Linked DNA regions of Homo sapiens. The protein of the gene in region 2 purifies or fractionates together with the protein of the main gene of each other region. This does not show direct contact. Each region holds a gene or a part of one and is shown on either strand. Other genes may lie near its edges.

Region 1 (5,082 bases), on a different chromosome or scaffold from region 2:
CACGCCTGTCATCCCAGCATTTTGGGAGGCTGAGGTGGGCGGATCACTGGAGCTCAGGAGTTCGAGACCAGCCTGGCCAACAAGGCAAAACCCATCTCTCCTAAAAACACAAAAATTAGCCGGGCATGGTGGCGAGTGCCTGTAATCCCAGTTACTCAGGAGGCTGAGGCAGGAGAATTGCTTGAACCTGGGAGGCAGAGGTTGCAGTGAGCCGAGATTGCGCCACTACCCTCCAGCCAGGCTGACAGAGCTAGACTTTGACTCAAAAAAAAAAAAAAAAAAAAAATTAAAGCAAAAAGAAGAAAGTTGTTACTTCAATAAAAACAAAATGAAATTTTTAGAAAGAGTTGATAGAGACCAATGCTAAAAAAAAAAAAAAAAAAAAGCAAAAACAAAACTGTTGACTTAGGTGTAAAATAATTGCAAAGGAGTGGGGAAAAGAATAAAAATCTGGAGGATTTTGCATCCGGATTGCTCTTTTCCTTTTCCCTGCTCTTCCCAGAACCCCCTCCCAAGTCCATATTGGAAAGTGGGGGCAATGTGCTGAGTGGTTCCCTAAAAAGGAAAATATGGAACCCAAGTTAGCAGCTCCTGGTCGAAGAAAAGGACAGCAATAGGACAGACCCAAATGGCAAAGGCAAAGACGGGAGAATGACTGTGCAGTTGTGTTTTCTGTAAAAACAAAAATTTATGCACAACCATACATCTTTCAGATTCTCCGCTGTAACCAACCTCCAGGTCACAGCCACAGGACTTCCCACGGACTTCCCCTGCTCTTAAAGCAAACTGCAGAACCAAGCGTGGACTTCTGCTCCTGAGGGGGACGGAAGGACAGTCCCCTGCGGTCATCTCTATAGGAGATGGGGGCCATGGGTGGGAGAGAAACTCCCTGTTGCACTTTGTAGCCCTCAGTATGATTAAAGTGTTTACCATGTACATAAATTATGCTTTTTAAGTTCACATGTCTTATATACTTTTACGTTACTTTTTAAAATTAAAAGACAGTTAACTTTTAAGAATAAATCAGGCGCAGTGGCTCATGCCTGTAATCCCAGCATTTTGGGAGGCCAACGTGGGCAGATCCCTTGAGGTCAGGAGTTTGAGACCAGCCTGGCCAATATGGTAAAACCCATCTCTACTAAAAAATAGAAAAATTAGCCTGGCGTGGTGGTAGGTGCCTGTAATCCCAGCTACTTGGGAGGCTGAGGCAGGAAAATCGCTTGAACCCAGGAGGCAGAGGTTGCAATGAGCTGAAATCATGCCACTGCACTCTAGCCTGGGCGACAGAGTGAGACTCCGTCTCAAAATAAAAAAAATAAGAAAATAAAAAATAAATTAGCCAGGTGTAGTGGTGTGCACCTGTAATCCCAGCTACTCAGGAGGCTGAGGCAGGAGAATCACTTGAACCCAGGAGGTGGAGGTTGCAGTCAGCTGAGATCGCACCACTGCACTCCAGCCTGGGCGACAGAGTGAGACTCTGTCTCAAAAATAAATAAATCAAAAAGAATAAATGAAAAGGAAAAATAAAGACACACGTTCCACTGGAAACATGTGAACATGCAGAGGCCACAGGGATGGGACATGATGCATTCGTGGGAAGCATATAGGATATTAACTTCCATCTCTATAAAAAATTTAAAAATTAGCCAGGAGTGGTGGCCACACCAGTGGTCCCAGCTATGCGGGAGGCTGAGAGGGGAGGATGGCTGGAGCCCAGGAGGTCAAGGCTACAGTGAGTGGTGATTGTGCCACTGCACTCAGAGGGATACCCTGTCTCAAATAAATAAATAAAAGCAAAAGTTGATCTTGTCACCCCCTGCCTGGAAAACCTTTAACAGTTGGCTTCTCTGTGCCTGGCCGTGGTCACCACACACCTCCGACCCTCCGCCCAGGTGCAGGGCCCCTGGTTTCATCTCTGTCCTTCCCCACCAGGTCCCTACTGCTCGGTCCCTGGAAGCCCAGCTGCCATTCACATCCCCCTTCTCAGGAAGCCCCCAGGACTCCCCTTTGACCCCACTTCTCTGAGTTCCTAGCTCCAGGGCACACTCCCACCAAGCCCTCACCCCAGGCAGACACTTCATTCATTCACTGAACACACAGGGAAGTCGCCTGGCACTGCCCCAGGTTCTGAGGACTGAGCAGTGAATGAAAAATCCGTTGCAGGGAGGAAGGGTTTTTGACTCCAGCAGGGGCTGTGCTGGGAAAGGCAGAAATGAGGAGGTGCCCTCCGCACAGGGAAGCCTGGGGCGCCCCGGAGGAGGGGGCCCTGCAGCTAACCCCGAGGCGGGCGGGCGGTCAGGCCGGTGCTCACCGCAGCAGTAGGAGGCCTGGGGTCGCGGAGGAGCGGCAGGTCGAGCAGGGCCCTGTGGGTCCCGTCACAAGGACGGAGTCTCGCTCTGTCGCCCAGGCTGGAGTGCAATGGCGCAATCTCGGCTCACTGCAACCTCCGCCTACTGGGTTCAAGCGATTCTCCTGCCTCAGCCTCCAGAGTAGCTGGGACTACAGGCAGGAGCCACCACGCCCGGCTAATTTTGTATTTTTAGTAGAGACGGGGTTTCACCATGTTGGTCAGGCTGGTCTCAAACTCCTGACCTCGTGATCCGCCCGCCTCGGCCTCCCAAAGCGCTGGGATTACAGGCGTGAGCCACCGCGCCCGGCATGGATCGAGTTTTGATCCATCCCGATATGGCTCCCTGCTGGGAGGGACGGGTCTCCTTCGCGTCCGACCCGCCGGCCCATCTCAAAGCGGGAAAACCGGTCCCTGCGGCTGCCCTAGCTCGGAGCCCGCAGCTTCGTCCCGACCTGCCCGGAAAGGTTCCTCCCCCTCCCTCCGCTCCGGGAGCCCGGACTTTGCCCGGCCCGTCCCAGCCCAACCCACCTGCGCCCTCGGGACCCACCTGCGCCCCCGGGACCCACCTGTCCGGCTCCTGGGGACGCCCCCGCCCTGCAGCAGCCGGGACCATTTGATCGCCCTGCGGGTGAGCGTGACCAGGTAGCTGGAGAAAAACTTCTCGTAGGCGGCGTCGTCGAAGTCCTCAGGCCGCTCGAATCCGTACGGGTCGATCCTGCAAAACCGAGAGAAGGAGGCCGGCGTCCCCGAAGTTTCCTCTGGGGGGTCGCGGGCCCGCGCGGGGACCGCAGCCGCCGGGGACGCCCGCACCCCGCGCCACACACCTGGGGACCCGCGAGCGCTCGGCGGGCTGCATGCGGGGAGGGAGGCGCGCACCGAGCGAGGCCAGCGGGTCCCAAGTTCGCCTCCCGGCTCCGGGGCGCTTAAGTCCTTCCGGCGGGACCGCGGGCGCGTGGGGGCGGGGCGGGGAGCGGAGAGGGGCGGGGCTGGAGGCGGGGGCGGGGGGGGGCAGGGCGGGGGGAGGGGCGGCTGGGGGCGGGGAGGACTTGGGGAGAGAGGAGGGGCAGGAGCGGGGGAGGGGCAGGGGAGCACCCAGGGCGGGGGAGGGGCGGGGCTGGGGGCGGGAGGACCTGGGGAGAGAGGAGGGGCAGGAGCGGGTGAGGGGCGGGGGAGGGCCGGGGGAGGGGCAGGGGAGCACCCAGGGCGGGGGAGGGGCGGGGCTGGGGGGGCGGGAGGACTTGGGGAGAGAGGAGGGTGGGGGCGGGGCGGGGCCTGCTCCCGGGGCTTCCGAGGCCGCGGCGTCCCGCGGGCAGAATCGGGGGCGCCTCCCGCAGAACCCCCGCGGCCTGGACCCGGGTGAGAGGAGCTTCTTCTGCGATTCCTTCAAACCTCAGTGCCTGGCCGACCCGACTCTGACACCTGACTCCTATTTTTATTTTATTTTTTATTTTCTCCGCTGCATTTCAAGGCCGAGACCAACACACAAATGAGAAGCCCCCAGGGGCGCCCGCCCGTTCCTGCCCCCCCAAACCAGGGACCGGGGTCCCCCCACCGGCGAGCCAGGCCTGGGAGAATCCGGGGCAGCTCTGGTTCCGAACGGCTTCTTCTCGGTCCGCATCCAATGACATTGTCCTGAGATTTCAGCTGCTTTTCGTGTCCGGGAGGCCCCGGAAATTTGCCAGAACTGCAGATTTTGAATTTTGCTCTGGCGACGTGGCAAAGGGGAGCCCCCAGACGTGAGGCGCTGGGGCGACCTCGCCCTGGGTCCCCCAGGGGTCTGGAGCGGGGGCTCCTCCGACAGGCCTCTCCCCGCCTGTAATTTAGGCCCAGGGCGACCTGGACAGGCCCCAGGAGGAGGCCGTCCCCGGACTCCAGACGCACTTTCCTGTGAGAAGCAGCCCGGCCTCGTCTGGGTGAGGCGAGGATCACAGGCTCAGCGTCCCCTGCGCGTCCGTCAGGGCCTTTCGGAACCAACTTGGGACCTTCCCATGGGTGTTTCCGGAATGTTCCATGCGAGCGCCACCCAGGAGCCTGGTCAGCAGCGTGTGGAACGGACCGGTCCCTAAGTGCGGACTCCCGCCTCTGCCTTTCACCCTTCTCCAGCCCTTGCAAGACCGGGGGGCGGGGTGGGGGTCAGTGCCCAGCGGAGCAGAGCCCCCGACACGGTTCCTCCCGTTCCTAGTCTGCTGGTTCTGGGAACTCCCCAAGCTTTCAGCCCAGCTCCTCAGCACTGGCCTTTGGTAACACGCGGCGTCCCTCATTTGAAAGATCACACAGCCCCCACTCTACGGTCTGACCTCCTTGGGATGTTTAGACCCAAGCCAGGAGACAGGGCCATAGCCTCCTGCCCCTCGGCCTACGGGTGCCCCACAGTCCAGGACTGACAGGTGGGCGTCCGTCCCCAGGGTCTTCGAACCCCGTCTGGGCTCCTCTCTGCCTAAGTCAGTGACTCCCTGAACCCCTCTCGGGCTCTAACTGACGCCCGAATTTCCTATATCGCATCCCTCGCGCTTTCTGGAGCAACAGACACAGTCCTGCTCCCCACTTCCCAGCACCCGGGGTCCTGCGCCCAAATCGCCCCACACCGCGCAGCTTCTGTTCCAACCCCAGGCCTGGAAGCCTCACGGCTCCCCTTTTCCCTAATTCCTGCCTTCTGGCCATGGAGATGGGGTTCTAACCTCCCTTTCCCACCACTGCCGTGGAAAGCAGCGTGGCAGGCAGCACGGACCAGG
Region 2 (4,537 bases):
TACTATATAACCCTAGGCAAGTCACTTAATGTTTCAACCAGTTTTCATTGTAAAAGTATCTGTCCTATCTTAACAAAGGCAAAATTGAGCTGACAAATGCAAGGGTGTTAAGGAATTGATTGAAAGGACATGTATATGTCTGACCAAAACAGTCTGCCCAGACTCCCGAGCAGCAGTGGAACTTAAGGAATTGTTTTCTCCAGGATCCTTGGACCTCCCAGAGCTTCAGCCTGCAGCCTTTGTGTCTTCTTACCAGCCCATGTACCTGACACATGAACCCTTGGTAGATACTCACCTGCAGCACTTGAAGTCTCCATCACAGGGTAGCCCAATTCAGTCTTCAGATTGAACAAGAAGGGATCAGATGCCACATCGTTTTTGTCGTGATTAATTTAACTTAAACTAAAATTTTGGGTATATGAAAGAAGGCAGCAATTCAGAAGTAAAGAAGATACTAACGTATTTCATCATGGAAGGTCCTGTGGTGATGGTTTTCCCTGGGAAAACCTTCAGCTGCTTTATTTTTAGTAATAAATTTCTCTTGTCAATTCTGTTTACTTTCATCTTGTAATCGGGATGTAATCTTTTTTGCTTAGCTCTGCCTGAGGTAAAGTAAACTTCAGCCTCTTATAAACAAGAGTGATAGAGAGCTGCAGGCTGCTACAACAAATACCATAGACAGGTTGGTTTATAAATAACATGAATTTATTTCTCACAGTTCTGGATGCTGGGAAGTCCAAGTTCAAGGAGCGCAGATTCAATGTCTGGTGAGGGCCCACTTCCTAGTTCTTAGACAGCTGTCTTCCTGCAGTGTCCTCACGTGGTAGAAGAGGAAGGCAGCTCTCCGGGGTCCCTTTTATAAGATCACTAAGCCGGTTCATGAGAGGTCTGCTCTCATGACCTAATCACCTCCCAAAGGCCCCACCTCCCAATACCATCACATTAGGGGTTAGGATTTAACATGAATTTTGGGGACATATAAACATTAAGTCTGTAGTAGCAGCAGCTGACTAACGAGGGAGATAGGGAGATTCTGACAAACTTCTACTCTTGATTGTGATCCTAATTCAAGGAATATCAAGTCCCAGCCCCTGCAACCCAGGCTGCTGCTTAATTTTCATGTCAGTATCATCAAAATCCAATGTTCTGCTTAAACTCAAGATGGAAAGTCCAGTCCAAGGTACACTGTTCATCTTTTTCTTCACATTTTGCACATCCTTCAAGGGGATCTTTAACCTCTTTAACCTTTGTATTGCACCTCAGATAATGTGCTTTTTAGCTCAGTACACTGAAACCATATGATAACACAAATTCACATATAATTGGGGGTTAGTCCCATACTCTATAACAGACTTAGTCCTGTCTTTTCATTAGCCATGTAATAATATAACTCCATGTTCCATGCAACTGGATTTTTGGACCCTGTTAATAGCATTAAGGTAGAGGTTTACTCTATCACCTAACACCTCAACACTACCTGTGGGATGCCTTAGTTACCCAGCAGCAGGTTACCAAGGGCTGTCTGGAAAGGGAGGGACAAAAGGACCCAGAAGTAGAAGAATGGGGATGGAGTGGTGAGAATTGAATGGTTAATGCACTGCCATTCATAATTGCCAATTGAGGACAACACAAATGGGATTGGTACTTTATAGTAATAAATCTGACCAGCAGAGGGAGGGATCAGGCAGCAGTGTTTAGAGCACACCACACTGGCCACTGTAAACTGAGAAGCTAAGTTAACTGGTATTTTATGATTTTGAGTATAGTCTTTTTATAAGTTGTATACACTTTACAATGTAAAAGAAACAAACTTTGTATAATAGCAAATCGGGAAGGGGACTGCTTAAAATGTTAATGCAGTGTTTTTCTTTTTTTCTCTGCATAAATGGCTTGAGCATACTGGCATTTACACAGAAATGATATATGCTGCTTTTATCATATAACAAATATTTTCCCACTATTACAGCCTGAGTAATACCCGTATTAAAAGAGCCTCATTTTAGAAAGACATTTAAAATTTTTGGAACATACCACATGTAGAAAGGTTGAACTGGTTTTTCAGCTATAATGCATATACAACTATAGTGTGTACGTATACCACATATACATATACTTGTATGAAGATATGTGTAAAATGTTTTTACTATGGATCATGGATTTAAGAAACTTGAAAAGCTGGGCACGGTGGCTCACGCCTGTAATCCCAGCACTTTGGGAGGCTGAGGCGGGTGGATCAAGAGGTCAGGAGATCGAGACCATCCTGGCTAAGTCGGTCTCTAATAAAAATACAAAAAATTAGCCAGGCGTGGTGGCACGCGCCTGTAGTCCCAGCTACTCGGGAGGCTGAGGCAGGAAGAATCGCTTGAACCCGGGAGGCAGAGGTTGCAGTGAGCCGAGACCGCGCCACTGCACTCCAGCCTGGGCAACAGAGCAAAACTCCAACTCAAAAACAAAAACAAAAACACCTTGAAAAACACTGCCTTAGTATACTTAAACTATCTTTTCATCTATCAGATTGTTAAGGATTTTTTTTAAATTTGACAACATCCAGTGTCAATGAGGGTGAGGGCAAAAAAAGGACTACCTTGGTGAGAATGTAAGTTGTTTAATCCTTTGGGAGGGTTAAGCTGTAGATATCTAAATTTTAAATATATATTTATCCTCTTCCATGTTAAGAACCCTAAGAAATAACTGGACGAGTGTGGTATGATGTTTGCATGTGATATTCATTACAGTATTATTTTAATAGTAGAAAATTGTTAAAAATCTATATGTCCATTAATAGGAAATTGGTTAAATAAAATGAGGCTTCCACAAACTGAAACACTCTAAATCTATATTCTATTATTTACATAAGAAAATTATTTTGGTAAAGTAAGTAAGTCAAAAACACAGATTACAAAATAATATGTACTGTATAAAATTATATAACTCAAGTCAAGTGAATGGTTCAGCAAAATAGTGTTTCTCTGAATGATGAATTTGGGGGTGATTTTTACTTGCTTATACTTTAGTGTCCAAATTTTCTACAGTGACTATAAATTTCATTTTAAAACTAAAAAGTTCTTACATTTGGGGAAATGCAGTGAATTCCCACATCATGTTTTAAATTACTCAGCCACTAAAAATGAATGTGCATGGCGTCATTAACATAATCATTGCCTGAACCGTATTTTTCACACTATGTACTCTAGGTTCCTGGAGGTGAAAGGAATCTGGACTTAGAGTTCTTGGCTACCTCTGGCTGCCCCCGAATTAGAACAGCCCATGGGGGTATGTGTATTGGGAGTGGAGGAGTGGACGGGTAGATTGACTTTTTCTCAGGCATCAATCTGTTACAAGGTTCATGGTTTCTATGGGGCCAGATGCATGAGAGGTCAAAGCATGGGCAATAGGGGTTAACTGAACGAGTTGAATGCTAGGAAGTCCTCAGGGGAGCCAACGTTCCTTGTAAAGTGTGTAGATTTTTTGTTTTTTAACTAAATAAAATCTTGGCACTGACAAAGTTATTCCTGCTGTTTGGAGCTACACCAGAACCCCTTGGAACTCTACAGAGGGGTAGAACTAAAGCAAAAACCATCATTCACCCTACAGAGTATTATAAATTTCATTTTCACACAGTAAAAAGTTCCTAAATTGGGGGAAACATAGTGAATTCCACATAATGTTTTAAATTATTCAGCCACTAAAAATAAATTTACATATGATTTCATTAATATATTCACTATCTAAACCATATTTTTTACACTACGTAAAATACATTGTATATGTACAGTGAGTGATGCTTTTTGCTTTAGTTCTCATTTTTCACATTAAGGGGAGGAAAGCTACCCATAGATAGTATTCTTACTCCTTTTCACATGCTTCAAGGACAGTTTGCAAGTGGATATAAATACATACACATCACTAGTGATTATGCTTTTATTTATTTCCAACTTCTTATAGGTAACATAATTTTCAGACAATGTTAGCTGTTTTTAATCCATCAGTAAACTGCATTAAGATTCTTAATAAACAAACACTGAAGGCCTCTTTCATATTTGTATCATCTGCATTTTTTTTTATATGCTTGTCATGTGGCTTTACTTTCAGCCTCACTCTTTTCTTCTTCCAAATGGATTATCCTTAAACCTTTTACCTTTAAAGAGCCTGAGATTTATATTTAACTCGAACAACAGTTTGCCTCTGTTGCCCCTGTGTTCATGTTTTCCTAAGCCAGAGTTTCCCACGCCTCCTGTTCCTGGCAGCCCAAGTGCCTTCGCTGGGCTACTCCCACCTGGCCCTTGCTTTTCATTCCTTAGGGCAGTCACTTAGCACCTTCCAAAGTGCCTGCACATGTTTCTTATTTCATTTCTTAAACATTCATATTACCACTATTTAGATTGAAGGAACAGAATTGGTTTGGGCTTGAAGAGAATACAAAGAGATCTGTCTTCAATTATCTGATAGTAGTAAAGTTTCACGGGAGAAAGAAAGATTTCGGTTCCACATAAGGAAAAACTTGGAAAGTTTTGAATGGAAAGTTCATAGAGAGATT

The links.
Region 1: the proteins of TBRG1 (region 2) and GRTP1 purify together in Homo sapiens (affinity purification with mass spectrometry; one large-scale study listed by BioGRID and IntAct). This does not show direct contact.

The regions. Positions count from the first base shown.
Region 1 is NC_000013.11:113,360,846-113,365,927, forward strand, and holds the start of GRTP1 (growth hormone-regulated TBC protein 1), read right to left. Parts: upstream 3,286-5,082; 5' UTR 3,207-3,285; coding exon 3,175-3,206; intron 3,066-3,174; coding exon 2,917-3,065; intron 1,024-2,916; exon of another isoform or gene 714-1,023; intron 1-713. UniProt on the Homo sapiens protein: May act as a GTPase-activating protein for Rab family protein(s).
Region 2 is NC_000011.10:124,631,890-124,636,426, forward strand, and holds the end of TBRG1 (transforming growth factor beta regulator 1), read left to right. Parts: intron 1-203; coding exon 204-349; 3' UTR 350-4,037; downstream 4,038-4,537. UniProt on the Homo sapiens protein: Acts as a growth inhibitor. Can activate p53/TP53, causes G1 arrest and collaborates with CDKN2A to restrict proliferation, but does not require either protein to inhibit DNA synthesis. Redistributes CDKN2A into the nucleoplasm.